Homo sapiens: one gene and its partners. The protein of the gene in region 2 purifies or fractionates together with the protein of the main gene of each other region. This does not show direct contact. Each region holds a gene or a part of one and is shown on either strand. Other genes may lie near its edges.

Region 1 (4,262 bases), on a different chromosome or scaffold from region 2:
CCCCTGACCACATTCAAAACCACCAAGATCTGTGATCAGCATCATATAATCAATTTCTATTTGTTCCTGCAATACACAAGAAATGTCTAGAAGATGATCACCACATTTGGAGGCTGTATTTGCATGCTCTGACTTAAAACGTTGCTATGTGAGATAGAAAAACATTACTGGCAATGGGGGAGAGGATACCATTCAAAGAAATAGGCAGTGTCCTTCAGGGCAGCGGAAAGGGCTGTGGAGGCCCCAGGACCACATCAGAAGACTGATCAAGTGGGAAGAGACATTGGGCCCCACTCTATCTAGTTTACAGTCCTTTAGGACAAACTTGGGGTCACCTATTTGGGGGTACCTCTGTTCAGCAGCCTATCCTGTCCTTATCCATCATCCCTGTGCCCAGGAGCTGGCCCTCCTCCATGAATGATCTCCTGGGGACAACAATGAGACAACTGACTCCACTTTGGTGCCTACCTCTGGCGCAGTCCAGGGGAATTTAAATTCCCTACTGCTATTAACCTACGCAGACACTGCAGGCAAAAATGTACCCTGGGCCATGTTCCTATGTACCTCTGTTAAAATTCAGGGTCTATCTGCCCCTCTGCTGTCTGAGCTGAGGCTGGTCAGAGGCATTTCAGAACATGCTCTCAGCTGGTTTTGCAAAGCTGAGATTCAATTCTCCTGAGTTACTCCTGGAAGGACATACAGGCACCACAGCACGGCACAGTTCCACTTGCTTTTAAATCACATTGAGTTTACAAATTCAGAAACGGCTCAGTCTGGCACCAGATGAGGAATGAGAATAAAAAATTAACTTGGCCACATTCTTCCTTGTCAGTAATACTGGGCTCTTCTATGACATGGGCTTTTTCATCATGAGTAGGCGTGTAGATATTCTTAGCTGGACACCAAGCTAAGGGAAAATGACAGTCACTCTCCAACATTTGTAAGTACTTAGAAGTTTACTTCCTGTCATATTTATTCGTGACTCTTCCAAAGGAGTGCTGCCTGCTTTTTCATCCCCCAAATCTGGGCGCAAACACTGCACACAAGTCTTTATAAATACGCCTATTTTCCCACTGAAAATGTTTCAGCTCTAGGAATACATTTTAAAACCTATATTTTCCCCTCCCCAGTTTACCACACCCTTGTTTTTCCTGGCAAAGCCATCAGAATTTGAAGTCCAGTAGAGAATTTCCTTTTGATTCCATCAGAATAAAGAAACACTGGCAGCATCCTTCAGTCATTTCACTTTTCCCTCACATTAAAGTGGGTTTATGACCATGAACACTTCGTATTAATAAATGTCTCAGCACACCCAAGCCTGAAAATCTGATCTAAACCTCCTTAACTTGAATTCCATCCACAATCCACAACTTCCTCGGAAAAAATCTCTCCCAGCTTCTCCTTCCTCTAGCCCAAGAAACAGCCTTAACAGCGAGCGATTTCATTCCTACACTCTTTGCTCAGCTTGACTTTGCTCCTCACGGCAAAAGTTGAGTTTGAAACGCCAAAGAGTCACAGTGCAAATTCTAATGGCACCAAACAGGCTTCGGTTAAACACATTTCTAAGAAAAAGAAGACCAAGTTTCTGAACCCTACAGAAGATTCAGGCGTTTGTGACTAAGTGTGGGTCATCCCTGAGCTTTTTCTGGAACAGATTCAGCGTTTCTACCTTCACAAATGACTGTCCCTCTAGCAGTCTGGACAGTGTCTAGATCTGAGACCTAAACATGCCCTGTTATGTGGCCAAGACTTACTGGAGCTCATTTAAACTTATCGTCCCTTAGTTTTTTGGTGGAAAACAGGGCCACCATGCTCACCCTTAAAACATACGCTGGGCATTGTGCTCACTTGGAAAACATCTTAGGGTGATGGATGGGTTTCCCTCCTTATCTTGGAAGACACCTTTTCTTCCTTGTTACCTGGCTTGGCAATTTTACTTTCCCCATACATCTCATCACAAGTATTCATGTTAGTATATATCATTTGCTCAGTCCCTTCACGGGCAGGCACGGGGTGGCGTTATTACCCCCGTTTTACACAGTGGAAACTGAGGCTCTAAGAAGTTAATTGACCCACCGCCATACAGGTAGTAAGTAGCAGAGCTGGATTAAAACCCAGGCTTGTCTGGTTTAAAATTGCTTGTTGTTTCCACTTTGGTCAGCCTCGCTTACGACAGCTCCGGGAGAAGTCTCTGGAGTCCGTGCGAGCCGGCGGATCAGGTCTAGATGGAGGTTCTTTAACGACCCACCTCTCGGCGATCTCTTAACCAACTCCCCCAGCGGAGCCCCCACCCCCCGAACTTCGGCTCTGGGGCTCCCCTCCCACCCACTGCCATTCCTGCCTTTTCTTTTCCAGCCCCTACCAGCTGGGGCGGCCTCACGCCGGCAGGTGCCCACCGGGCCGGGGCGCCTCGGGGCGCCGGGAGGGGAAGAGGGTCCGCGGCCAGGCCCGCACCTACCTCGTCCCCGAAGCGCACCACCTTCTGGCCCGTGGGCCCGCGCAAGCCGGGGAAGCGCGTGAGCTCCTCCGAGTCCCCGGGGTCTCGGGGCGCCGGGGCGCGCGGCCCCACCAGGCACCGGTCGATGATCTCGTCCTGCTGCGCGGGCGGCAGCCGCGCCCACTCGGGCCCGTACTTCTCGCGGATCTTCTCCTTGTCCTGCATGATCTTCCTGGCCATGGGGCTCAGCGACGAGAAGTAAGTGAAGCGCTTTCGCTCCCGGTCGTCCAGAGGCCGGTTCCCGCTCATGACCGCCGAGCGCGAAGCCGCGATCGCCGCCGCCATGGACGCCATGCCCGGCCTGCCCGCCGCTCCCGGCCCGCGCCCCGCCCCTCGCTGTGCCCGCCCTCGCCCCGCCCCGCGCCACCCGGAGCCCCGCCCCCTCCGGGAACCCCGCCCTGCACCGCCGCGTACCCGGGTCTCCAAGCCAACCCAGCTCCCCAAGCCCCGGGACCCCGGCCCTCCGTGGCCCCCTCCCCGGGAGCTCCTCCCTCCGGGCCCCCCCCCGCCACCCCCTCGCGGACCCCACGAGTCCCCCTTTACGCCTCCATAGTGGATTACCGCGGTGCCCGCAGGTTTCGGGCTCCCCTTACCCGGCTCAGGTGGTAGCCGGCGTGTCCCTGAGTCCGCGCCCGGCGCTCTGAGAGGGTGGCCGTGGTTAATTCCCGGTAGTGACCGCCATAGCGCCACGTGGCCACTGCTTGACAAAGGAAACTTTTTTCAACCTCCAGTGAGCCTAAGAAAGCCCCAGCATTTCAGGCCAAGCCGCTGGCTGCCTGGCTTCTGTTTTTACTCCTTTCCTTCTGTCCCTTTCTGGGACGAGCCACACCTTCTCTGCTTTCTCTGGGCCCGTCCAGGACGCTGGGCCCGGGGCCTGGCGCGGTGAGCTGCAGATAGCCGGGGGCGCAGGGCAGCCCGGAGGCTGGAGGGCGACCTGGAAGGCTGGACCGGTTCGGGGCATCTGGTGCTCAAGGAAAGTCAGCTCCCGCCGCCCCTCGGGGCCAGGTGGGTGCATGAAGTACCCGGTGGCCCAGGTGCCTTTCCCCAACCCAAGGAGCTCAGAACTCTTGGCAGTTCGACGTTTGCAAACAAACCAAAGAGGAGCAGAAAGTTTTCAGACTCAGAGGCGACATCCCAACAGGTAGGGGGCCAGGGTTTGTAATTTTGAGGTGTGTCCCAGACAGACCACAAAATTAAAATTATAGCGAGCCCCCACTTCCCCCAAGCCCCTCTCTCCATCTGACTGATTTTAACAAGACTAACAGGACTCAGGTGAGAATTGTGTCCACTCGTAAAATAAAAAAACAAAAACAAAAACCAGCATTTCAGCTGTTATCCAGGGTCTTTGCCTGGATAGTTCTGAACACAAAAGTAGAAATAACTTGCAAAGTCCTATTTTAAATGTGAGATGGCCTCATCTTCCGGCCCAGAAATCCTCAGAATATTTTTGGAATGTCATGAATGTGGCAGGCTCTACAGTTAAAGACATTATTATCAACAATGTTCACAACATAATATATTGAAGCAGGGAAAGGCAAGCACCACCAAATATAGTCTCCACAGTAAGTGGCGGATTATTTATGAGACCGGAAGTTTAAGGACAGTTTTTTGGAGTATGATCTTCTGTTTGAGTTGATGCTAGAGAAGCTCAATACATTGACCTGAATCCCACTGATTTCTCTCCTCTAATCCTTGTTTAATAATATAGGTAATGTTTAAAGATATATTCTTGAAATTAATTAACATCCCCAGGCTTGCTTTGATA
Region 2 (3,500 bases):
GCAGCTCGGAGTTGTGGCCTCCCTCCTCCAGGGCTCGCCTCCGCCTTTCCTCCCGCCCCTACTGGCAGCCAACAAGTCAACGGAATTCCTGGCCTTTGAGATGTCACCCCAAATGCCACCTGAGTTGAGTGAAGAAACACTCTCTTGGTGAAAGCAGAAGCGGAGCTACCAGGCCAGGCATTGCTGGTGGCCGGCATCACCTGAGCTCGCCTGTGTCCTGCCCAGCTTCAGTGGGTCTTCCCCCGGCCCTCTGAGATGACATCCTCGGGCCGGGCGCGCATGTACCACTCCACCCAGGAGCCATCGTAGATGGGCACGTCTGGCTTGCCGCAGAGGTAGGCCCCTAGTGCCACGTGGCAGGCTGTGACGCCAGAGCCACACGTGGCCACCAGTGGCTTAGACAGGTCCACTTTCTTCTCCTGGAACAGATGGCGGATCTCCTCAGGGCTCTTCTCCAGCCCCTCCTGGCTCAGGAAGTCTGTGAAGGGGATGTTCACGGTACCTGGGATGTGGCCAGGTTCAATGCCTACAGCAGGGGAGCAGGGAGGAGGGGACAAATAGAAGGATGCTATGAATGGTACCTCGTATTTGTGGTGCTCGAGATATTGAGAGCATCCCATGCAAGCATGGTGCTAAATCCTTTATATCCACCATCTCATTTAATTCTCACAACCATAAAACCTGAGCACTGTTTAGAGGAGCCCCCATTTTATACACGGTGATGCTGAGGTTAAGTACCACCTGAGGCTAACACATCTAGCAAATTGCTGACTGAACTTTGAACCTAAGAACTGGGCCCCAAGGTTTCCTGACTATGCACCCTAGGGACAGCAAAGCAATAAACAAGACCCCTGCCTAGCTAGAACGTGCAGTACCTGCAGGCAAGGAGCTTTAATCTGGCAGGGCAGACAGGCAACTGAATAATTACAAGCATAATGGGTGTTCCAAAAGTGCCCTACTGGGTGGCCTGGGGCATGTAAAAAAAAAATAACGCCAGTAACAGCAATAGCTGATATTATTATTACTGAGACAGGGTCTCATTCTGTTGCCCAGGCTGAAGTGCAGTGGCATGATCAAGGCTCACTGCAGCCTCAACCTCCTGGGCTCAAGCAATCCTCCTGCCTCAGCTTCCCCCCGAGGGGCTGGGACTACTACAGGCACATGCCACCATGCTCAGCTAATTTCCTTTTTTTGTTCTTTTTTTTTTTTTTGAGATGGAGTTTTGCTCTTGTTGCCCAGGCTGGAGTGCAGTGGCATGATCTTGGCTTACTGCAACCTCCACCTCCTGGGTTCAAGTGATTCTCCTGCCTCAGCCTCCTGAGTAGCTGGGATTACAGGCACCCATCACACCTGGCTAATTTTTGTATTTTTAGTAGAGACGGGGTTTCACCATATTGGCCAGGGTGGTCTCGAACTCCTGACCTCAGATGATCCACCTGCCTTGGCCTCCCAAAGTGCTGGGATTACAGGTGTGAACCACCACGCCTGGCCTAATTTGGTTTTTATAGACATGGGGTCTCAGTATGTGGCTCAGGATGGTCTTGAATTCCTGGCCTCAAGTAATCCTTCTGCCTCAGCTTCCCAAAGTGCTGGGAATATAGGAGTAAGCCACCTTGCCTGGCCAATAGCTGATGTTATTGAATGCTTACTTTCTGCCAGGCACTGTTTGGAGACGGTCAGCTATACTTTCTCCTTGAATCCACCCCAAAATTCTCTGGGAAAGAAATTATTATCCTCTCTTTTGTAAAGATGAAGAGAATGAAGTACAAAGACTAGCTTGTGCAAGCTAGCAGAGGGCAGGGAGGAGTAAACCCAGGCAAGTCTATGCTTCCCACCTTCACGCCACACTGGCTGGGGGCTCAGTGGGTGGAGGAAGTTTCTCTGAGAATGCCCCGAAGGATGAGTAGGATTCAGTCACATAAAGGGGTCTGGGTGGATGGAGGCCTAGAGCATCCCAGGCAGAGGGAATCTGAAAGGCGAGGGAACCACCTGTTGCCCGGAGGGGTTAAAGGTCATTGTCACGAAAGCCCAGACAGTGAGAAGCCAGAGGCCCAAAGGGGAAGCTGAAGGGGATGGGAACGCCTTAGCAGGCCTGGAGTAAGACTTGGGGGCTTTGACCTGACTGCAGGGGGAACTCAGGCTTCTGCGTTTACTTTTTTACTGTTACTTTTAATTTTTTTTATTGAGAAGGGGCTTGCCATCATGTCCAGGATGGTCTTGAACTCCTGGGCTCAAGGGATCCTCCCACCTCAGCCTTCCAAAGTGTGAGGATTATAGGTAGGAGTTACCTTGCCCAACCTAGATTTCCATTTTTAAACGATCATTTTGATTGTAGCAGAAAGAATGGGATGGGAAAGGCCCACACCTCTGCAGACTCCCAGGGTGTTTTTTGTTTTCACTGCCCCACCTTGAGGCAGGGGTTACTAACATTCCCATTTTCATGCAGGACTGGGATTTGCAACAAAATAAACCTTCACAACTAACGCTTGGGCTGGGCACGGTGGCTCACGCCTGTAATCCCAGCACTTTGGGAGGCCGAGGGGGGCAGATTACCTGAGGTTGGGAGTTCGAGACCAGCCTGACCAACATGGAGAAACCCCGTCTCTACTAATAATACAAACATTAGCCGGGCGTGGTGGCACATGCCTGTAATCCCAGCTACTCGGGAGGCTAAGGCAGGAGAATCACTTGAACCCGGGAGGCGGAGGTTGTGGTGAGCCGAGATTGCGCCACTGTACTCCAGCTGGGAAACAAGAGCAAAACTCCGTCTCAAAACAATAACAACAACAACAACAGAAACAAACACAAACAAAAAACCCCCCAAAAACGAATGATTCAAATCTGAGCCATTCAGACTCTTGTCCAGCTTCTGCCTTGGTTTCCCTCCGCAGTGGAGTGACACCCCCACAGGAGCTGCTGACCCATGTATCGGTATCTATTCTCAGACCCTGGCATAGAGACAGCACTCCCGAGTCTGTGGAGAGGCTGGAATGGGTCATGCATCCCACCTAACAGACACAGTTACCGGGCTTGGTCAGATATCACATAGAGACCAGCCCAGAGCAAGGAGGAGGAACAAACTCTCAACCCAGGGTGGTGACTGTAAAGGGAGGGCCATCCCTACACCTTGAATCCCACCAAGCAAAGCATGTTTCCCCTGCCTGCTGGACTGGTGTGGCACATCACAGGAGCACTTGGCCAGGCCTCAGGCTGTGGAGTGGGAATGATGACGACAGTGACATTCATCACTGATCCAGCTGCAGTGAGCTTAGTTTGTTTTGACAACAAGCCTGCTAGGCGTGTATCACCTCCCATTCTATAGATGAGCTAGTGCGACTGAATAAGTGTCAGGCACAAGTGTGCAGCACACTTGTGCATGAAAACCCGGAGCTGAGTGCTTTACACACTTGCTCTCCTTGCCCCTATCATGTCTTTATGCTCTGTGTTACTGCTCCCATTCTACATAGGCAGAAGCTGCAGTTCAGAGACATTAGATGACC
Region 3 (3,500 bases), on a different chromosome or scaffold from region 2:
CAGTTTTAAAAAGTGAGCTAAATTTGAAAATCACGTAAAATTCCTAGTTTCCTGCTTCCCTCAACAACACAGGGCTCTGGCCACCCTAGGCCTAAACAATAAGTAATAGCTGCCCCCATCCAATGGGATATGAGCTCCAGGTTCACCCTGGTCCTCTCCCTTCCCTGGGGTCTCACACTGGGTGGCCAGATTTGGTGGCAGCCCTGGCTGGGCCCCTGCAGTCATCTGAGTTTTTGAGTCTGAGGCACAGTCTCTCATTCAAGTATCAGCCCGTCAAGGAAGGAACTGAGTGATCTCATTTCCTAGACAAGGAAACTGAGGTTCAGAGCTGGGTTTGGATCCCAGACACATCAATGAGACATGTTAGCCTGGACGTTCGGGGCAGTCCTGAAACCAAAGATGATCCAGCTCTCTCCCCACGCCATGGAGAACGTCCTCCAAATCTGAATATTTTTCCATCTAAACTCCATCTCTCTTTGGCCTCTGGAAGCTGGATCCTTCTGCAGACCAAATACCTTAATTCTCATCCATAAAGAATGCATACACAATGGCCGGGTGTGGTGGCTCATGCCTGTAATCCCAGCATTTTGGGAGGCCGAGGTGGGCAGATCACGAGGTCAAGAGTTCGAGATCAGCCTGGCTAACATGAACATGGTGAAACCCCGTCTCTAAGAATACAAAAATTAGCCAGGTGTGGTGGTGTGCACCTGTAATCTCCTAGCTACTCGGGAGGGTGCACCTGTAATCTCCTAGCTACTCGGGAGGCTGAGGCAGGAGAATCACGTGAACCCAGGAGGCAGAGGTTGCAGTGAGCCGAGATCGTGCCACTGTACTCCAGCCTGGGCGACAGAGCAAGACTCCGTCTCCAGGGGGAGAAAACATACACAACTTAAGTAGCTTTCACTGAGCAACTGGAACATGCCAGATACAGGGCTAAGATGATCTCAGCACCCCTCACCACCTCCTGGAGCTAGGGACCCTCTGTCCCATCCTTCAGAGAGAGAAGCTGGGCCTGGAGAGGTCAAGGCACTTGTCCAAAGTCACTTGAGGGTCACCAAAGTCACAGCATGGATCATCAGCCTGGCAGGGCCTGTGGGGTCAACTGGCCTAAACTGTATCACTTAACAGATGAGCAGACTGAGGTGGGGACAGGGAGGGTGGCTGCTCAGGACACAGGAGGCCCGGGCTGTCTTCTGGCTGTAGTGCTGAGGTCCTGCTATCAGAGCCAGCCCCTGGCTTGGCAGGGTTTGAAGATCTGAGCCAAAAGCAGTAGCCACTTATTGGCCTGAGGAAGGGGCTGGCCTCGTGTGGTAGGTATGGGGAGCTAGGAAGAGCAGGGGAGGCCTGGGGTCATGCCTTTGTCATCCTGCTTTCCAGGGGACAGGCTGCAGTCAAAGGCTTGGTGGGCCCAACTCTTCTGGTTCCAGGCAGAGACAAGCCCCAAATAAGCTGGACTTCTGAGGACCCCTGGCCTCCAGCAGACCCTCAGCCTCAGGGAGATGGGGGACAAGAGGTAGAGAGAAGGTGGGGATGAGAGATGGACAGAGGGACAAATAAGAGATGAGAGACAAATAAGGAATCAGAGCCATGGGAAGATGAGAAACAGGCTGAGTGCCGCGGCTCATGCCTGTAATCCCAGCACTTTAGGAGGCAAAGGTAGGAGGATCACTTGAGGTCAGGAGTTGGAGACCAGCCTGGGCAACATAACTAGATCCTGCCTCTACAAAAATAAAAATAAAAATTAGCTGGGCGTGGTGGCTCACACCTGCAATCTCGGCACTTTGGAGGCTGAGGCGGGAGGATCATTTGAGCTCAGAAGTTTTGGGTTGCAGTGAGCTGCAATCGCTCCATCACACTCCAGCCTAGGTAACAGAGCAAAACCTTGTCTCAAAAACAAACAAACAAAAAAACCGAAAGAAACAAAGATGAGAAACAGAGACAAAAGGAGCAAAAAACAGAAAGCCCATCTGGGGGACTGAACCCCTGGGTTCAGCTTTGGGAGTACAGGCCAGGACTCTCACCCAGTACTCCTGACACCCTCCACCTTTCCCTTCCCCCTGTGCCAAGAGCCTCTGTAATCCCCAGGGCAGGGGGCACCCACAGTTGGCCTGGGTGGGGTACAGGTGGATCAAGGACCGTGAGGCTGCACCCATGAAGCCTGGGGCACCTGAGAAGTAGCACACACATGGCCAGATTTCAGCTGGGACCTCCTGGGAAGCTGGACACCCGCCTCACCCTCTGGCCTGCCAAGCTGGCCAGGCCCTTCACAAACCCTGACATCTGGCATGAGGTGGGCTGCTGCTGGGAAACTCAGCCCAGAACAGGACAGAACGGCTCCTGGGTCCTGCAGGACCAGGGCTCAACCTCTGGGCCAGACACTTGGGGCCTGCGAAATCAGGCTGTGGCCGCCTCCCTGCTGCACCTGTCACCATTCCCTCAGCCCCATGCTGCTCTGGTCCAACTACTCACAGCTCCCTACACACAGAGGCCCATTCTCTGCCACCTGCCCTGCACACATGCTGTTCTGATGATCCGGAATACTCGCCCCCACCTCCCACACACTCACCCCTGGCTGGCTGACTTCCATAGTGAAGAGTAAGAACACAGAACCTAGCGCACCCCCACCCGGCCCAGTCCCGGGTTCCAGGCCTAGCCCTACTGCTGCCCGGTGCCCCGCCGTATGACCTCAGGCAGCCTCTCCCATTTTCTAAGCCTCAGGAAATGTTCCAACAAAAGTGGACTGGGTGCTCATGAGGGGCCAAGCACTTTAATCAAACCAAATAGGTTCAGTCCCTGTCCTGCTGGCCTTCCCATCAGGTGAGGGCAGATGCGGGCCTAACCCCGATCAGGGTGAGCTTTAGGAAGAGCATGCCTGGGGTGGGGGTTGGGAGGGGTTGCAGCCTCCTCCTCTGTGAATGCAGTTAATATCAAGGTACAGCTCACACGGTTGTAGTGGGGATGCACGGAGAGCAGGTGAGGAAAATGCCAGCACAGTGAGGCTCAATCACTCGGCTATGTTGATTGCCATGATTATGGCTGTCAACTGTCACAGTGCCAAACCACCTCCAGCCCCAGTAATCTCAAACATTCTGCTCCTAGAACCCAGGAACTTCTTCTACTCTTCCCTCCAGCCTACATGTGTCCTCCATATTCCCTAAACATGCCTGGCAAGCTCCCACCTCAGGGTCTCTGCATTTGTTGTTTCCCTGGTCTGGACCAACCCTTCTTCAAATATCCTCAAGGCTCCCTCCCTCCAGTCCTTCCTCCCTTCAGGCCTCACTTCGAATGTCACCTGCTCAGGGAAGCCTTCACTGCCCCCTCCCTAAAATGTCATTCCTGTCCCCAACATTTCAGATCCCCCTCTCCTGCTATGTATTTGCTCCACAGCGCTTGCCACCACTGGGCACGTGAGACAGTTATTTGTCAAGTTTATGGCCCGGCTATTTACTAAAATGCCAGCTCCGTTTTTTTCTTTTTCTTTTTTTTTGAGACAGAGTCTC
Region 4 (3,500 bases), 4.4 Mb from region 2:
TTAGATGACTTCTCCCTCACCACCCTAAAAGCTCTTCCACAGACAGGGCCCTTGTCTTAGAGCTCTGTGAACACACTCATGACACAGTGAGTGCTTATAAATACCACAACCACAGATGCCCTGCAGAAGGTCAAGGAGCCCGGCTACAAGGAACTAAAGAAGTGTGGCATACAAGAAAATTAACCAGGTGTGGTGGCGCATGCCTCTGGTCCCAGCTACTTGGGAGGCTGAGGCAGGAGAATTGCTTGAGCCCCAGAGGCAAAGGTTGCAGTGAGCAGAGATCGTGTCACTCACTGCACTCCAGCTTGGGCTACAGAGTGAGACTCCTTCTCAAAAAAAAAAAAAAAAAAAAGAAGATATGTGGCAGGGACAGGGCGGGGGTTTTAAAGGAACTCTAGATACCTCTTTGGTAAGTCCCACAAATGCCCACAGAATTAAAGCTCCCAATCAGAAACCATCTCAATCTCTCCAGGGGGAAAGCAGAAATACTCACCAGGCCTCAATTCACCAAGGGCCTAGACTTGAATATTTCATGATAAAAATAAATACTGCAAATATAACTCTAAAGCTCACTTCCCCAATGTTGTCCTTAGAGAATTAAAAAACTAAACCAAAAGATTCATTTCTACCTCTTCCCCCAACTCTTTTAAAACAGTATTGAAAGGGTTTTCTTGGCCAGGCGCAGTGGCTCACGCCTGTAATCTCAATATTTTGGGAAGCTGGGGCAGCTGGACCACTTGAGGTCAGGAGTTGGAGACCAGCTTTGCCAACAGGGTGAGACCCTGTCTCTACTAAAACAAAAAATACAAAAATTAGCTGGGCATGGTGGTGCGTGCCTGTGATCCCAGCTACTTGGGAGGCTGGGGCAAAAGAACTGCTTGAACCCAGGAGGTGGAGGTTGCAGTGAGATCATGCCACTGCATCCAGACTGAGCAACAGAGCGAGACTCTATCTTGAAAAAAAGGTTTCCTTGAACAACTACCACTTACCTGCTATCTGGGGAGATGATGGGAGGAACAAGCAATTTTCACAACTGGTTTGGTTTTTTTTTTGAGACAGAGTCTCGCTCTGTTGCCCAGGCTGGAGTGCAGCAGCGTGATCTCGGCTCACTGCATCCTCTGCTTCCTGAGTTCAAGCGATTCTTCTGCCTCAGCCTCCCAAGTAGCTGGGACTACAGGCGCACACCACCATGCCCGGCTCATATCTGTATTTTTAGTAGAGACGGGGTTTCACTACATTGGCCACACTGTTCTCAAACTCCTGACCTCGTGATCCACCCATCTCGGCCTCCCAAAGTGCTGGGATTACAGGCGTGAGCCACTGTGCCCGGCCACAACTGGTCTTTTTTAAACGTATGAGCTAAGGATAAAGGCTGGGGTGATGGATGCCGCGGGCCATCTGCAGGGGCTGGAGACAGAAATGAATATTCACCAAGTGCCTCTACCCTGCACTGGATTTGCCCCAAGTACTTTATCCACACAATCCCACGACTACCCTGTGAGGCAGAAGGCATTGTGCCCATTTAATGGATGAGGAAACTGAAGCTCTGGAATGCTAACTGTTTTGCCCAGGGTCACGCAGCAAGGTGGAATTCCAGGCCTGGCTCCAAAGCTGGTGCCCCTTCCTCTGGCCCAGGTGCTGCAGAATAAAACTAAAGAGGTCGGGTGCGGTGGCTCACGCCTGTAATCCCAGCACTTTGGGAGGCCGAGGCAGGTGGATCACAAGGTCAGGAGATTGAGACCATCCTGGCTAACACCGTGAAACCCCATCTCTACTAAAAAAAAAAATACAAAAAATTAGCTGGGCGTGGTGGCGGGTGCCTGTAGTCCCAGCTACGCAGGAGGCTGAGGCAGGAGAATGGCGTGAACCCGGGAGGCGGAGCTTGAACTGAGTGGAGATCGCGCCACTGCACTCCAGCCTGGGAGACAGAGCCAGACTCCGTCTCAAAAAAATAAATAAATAAATAAATAAATAAATAAATAAATAATATGGAAACCATTCTCCCTACCTTTAATTTACTTGGGAGGCTGAGGCAGGAGACTCGCTTGAACCTGATTCTCCTGCCTCAGTCTCCCAAGTAAATGGGATTACAGGTACACGCCACCATGCCCAGTTAATTTTTTGTATTTTAGTAGAGACAGAGTTTCACCATGTTGGCCAGGCTGGTCTTGAACTCCTGACCCCAAGTGATCCACCCACCTCGGCCTCCCAAAGTCCTGGGATTACAGCCGTGAGCTACCATGCCTGGCCCATTCTCCCTACCTTTCAAGACTTCCAAAATGAAGATATTCTACAAGGGGAAAATCTGTCCCTACTCTCAATCTTAGAAATGGCCTATTCCTAAAATAATATCAGAAACTATTTGCAGTGTGTGTGTTTTTTTGTTTTTTTGTTTTGTTTTGTTTTTGAGACAGAGTCTCGCTCTGTTGCCCAAGCTGGAGTACAGTGGCGCAATCTCGGCTCATTGCAAGCTCTGCCTCCCAGGTTCAAGCGATTCTCGTACCTCAGCCTCCCGAGTAGCTGGGTCTACAGGCGACCACCCACACACCCAGCTAATTTTTTTCTATTTTTAGTAGAGATGGAGTTTCACCATGTTGGTCAGGCTGGTCTCAAACTCCTGACCTCAGGTGATCTGCCTGCCTTGGCCTCCCAAAATGCTGGGATTACAGGTGTGAGCCACTGCGTCTGGCCTTTTTTTTTTTTTTTTTTAAGACAGAGTTTCATTCTTGTTGCCCAGGCTGGAGTGCAATGGCACAATCTTAACTCAGTACAACCTCCGCCTCCCAGGTTCAAACGATTCTCCTGTCTTAGCCCACAAAGTAACTGAGATTACAGGCATGCGCCACCACACCTGACTAATTTTGTATTTTAAGTACAGACGGGGTTTCACCATGTTGGTCAGGCTGGTCTTGAGCTCCTGACCTCAGGTGATCCACCTGCCTTGGGCTCCCAAAGTGCTGGGATTACAGGCATGAGGCACCACACCCGGCTCACAATGCTTTATAACACATCAAACAGAGTCAAAACAACTTTTCAAATATTAGGCCTTCAGAACCCTTCTTAACTGAAGGGTAGTTATTAATTACACTGTTTTGCAGATGTGTAACTAACTGCAGGACCACAGAGAGTTGAGACTTTGCCCGAAGCTACCCAGTAAGCCAGTGGCAGAAGTCTCCTAAGGCTCCTGAGGGTCCATCTGCTGCTTTTTTTTTTTTTTTTGAGACAGAGTTTCACCCTGTTGCCCAGGCTGGAGTGCAGTGGCGCGATCTCGGCTCACTGCAACCTCCACCTCCTGGGTTCAGCTGATTCTCCTGCCTCAGCCTCCTGAGTAGCTGGGATCACAGGCATGCGCCACCACGACTGGCTAATTTTTTTTTTGTATTTTTAGTAAAGATGGGGTTTCACCATATTGGCCAGGCTGGTCTCGAACTCCTGAGCTTGTGATCCACCCACCTCAGCCTCCCAAAGTGCTGGGATTACAGGCGTGAGCCACCACGTCC

Evidence for each region.
Region 1: the proteins of MPST (region 2) and C1orf198 fractionate together in Homo sapiens (co-fractionation; one large-scale study listed by BioGRID). This does not show direct contact.
Region 3: the proteins of MPST (region 2) and PEDS1 fractionate together in Homo sapiens (co-fractionation; one large-scale study listed by BioGRID). This does not show direct contact.
Region 4: the proteins of MPST (region 2) and ACO2 fractionate together in Homo sapiens (co-fractionation; one large-scale study listed by BioGRID). This does not show direct contact.

The regions. Positions count from the first base shown.
Region 1 is NC_000001.11:230,865,722-230,869,983, forward strand, and holds the start of C1orf198 (uncharacterized protein C1orf198), read right to left. Parts: upstream 2,801-4,262; 5' UTR 2,792-2,800; coding exon 2,459-2,791; exon of another isoform or gene 2,083-2,458; coding exon of another isoform or gene 2,077-2,082; intron 1-2,076.
Region 2 is NC_000022.11:37,026,242-37,029,741, reverse strand, and holds part of MPST (3-mercaptopyruvate sulfurtransferase), read right to left. Parts: intron 2,744-3,500; coding exon of another isoform or gene 2,685-2,743; exon of another isoform or gene 2,643-2,684; intron 527-2,642; coding exon 228-526; 3' UTR 1-227. UniProt on the Homo sapiens protein: Transfer of a sulfur ion to cyanide or to other thiol compounds. Also has weak rhodanese activity. Detoxifies cyanide and is required for thiosulfate biosynthesis. Acts as an antioxidant.
Region 3 is NC_000020.11:50,147,224-50,150,723, forward strand, and holds part of PEDS1 (plasmanylethanolamine desaturase 1), read right to left. Parts: intron 1-3,500. UniProt on the Homo sapiens protein: Plasmanylethanolamine desaturase involved in plasmalogen biogenesis in the endoplasmic reticulum membrane.
Region 4 is NC_000022.11:41,475,617-41,479,116, reverse strand, and holds part of ACO2 (aconitate hydratase, mitochondrial precursor), read right to left. Parts: intron 1-3,500. UniProt on the Homo sapiens protein: Catalyzes the isomerization of citrate to isocitrate via cis-aconitate.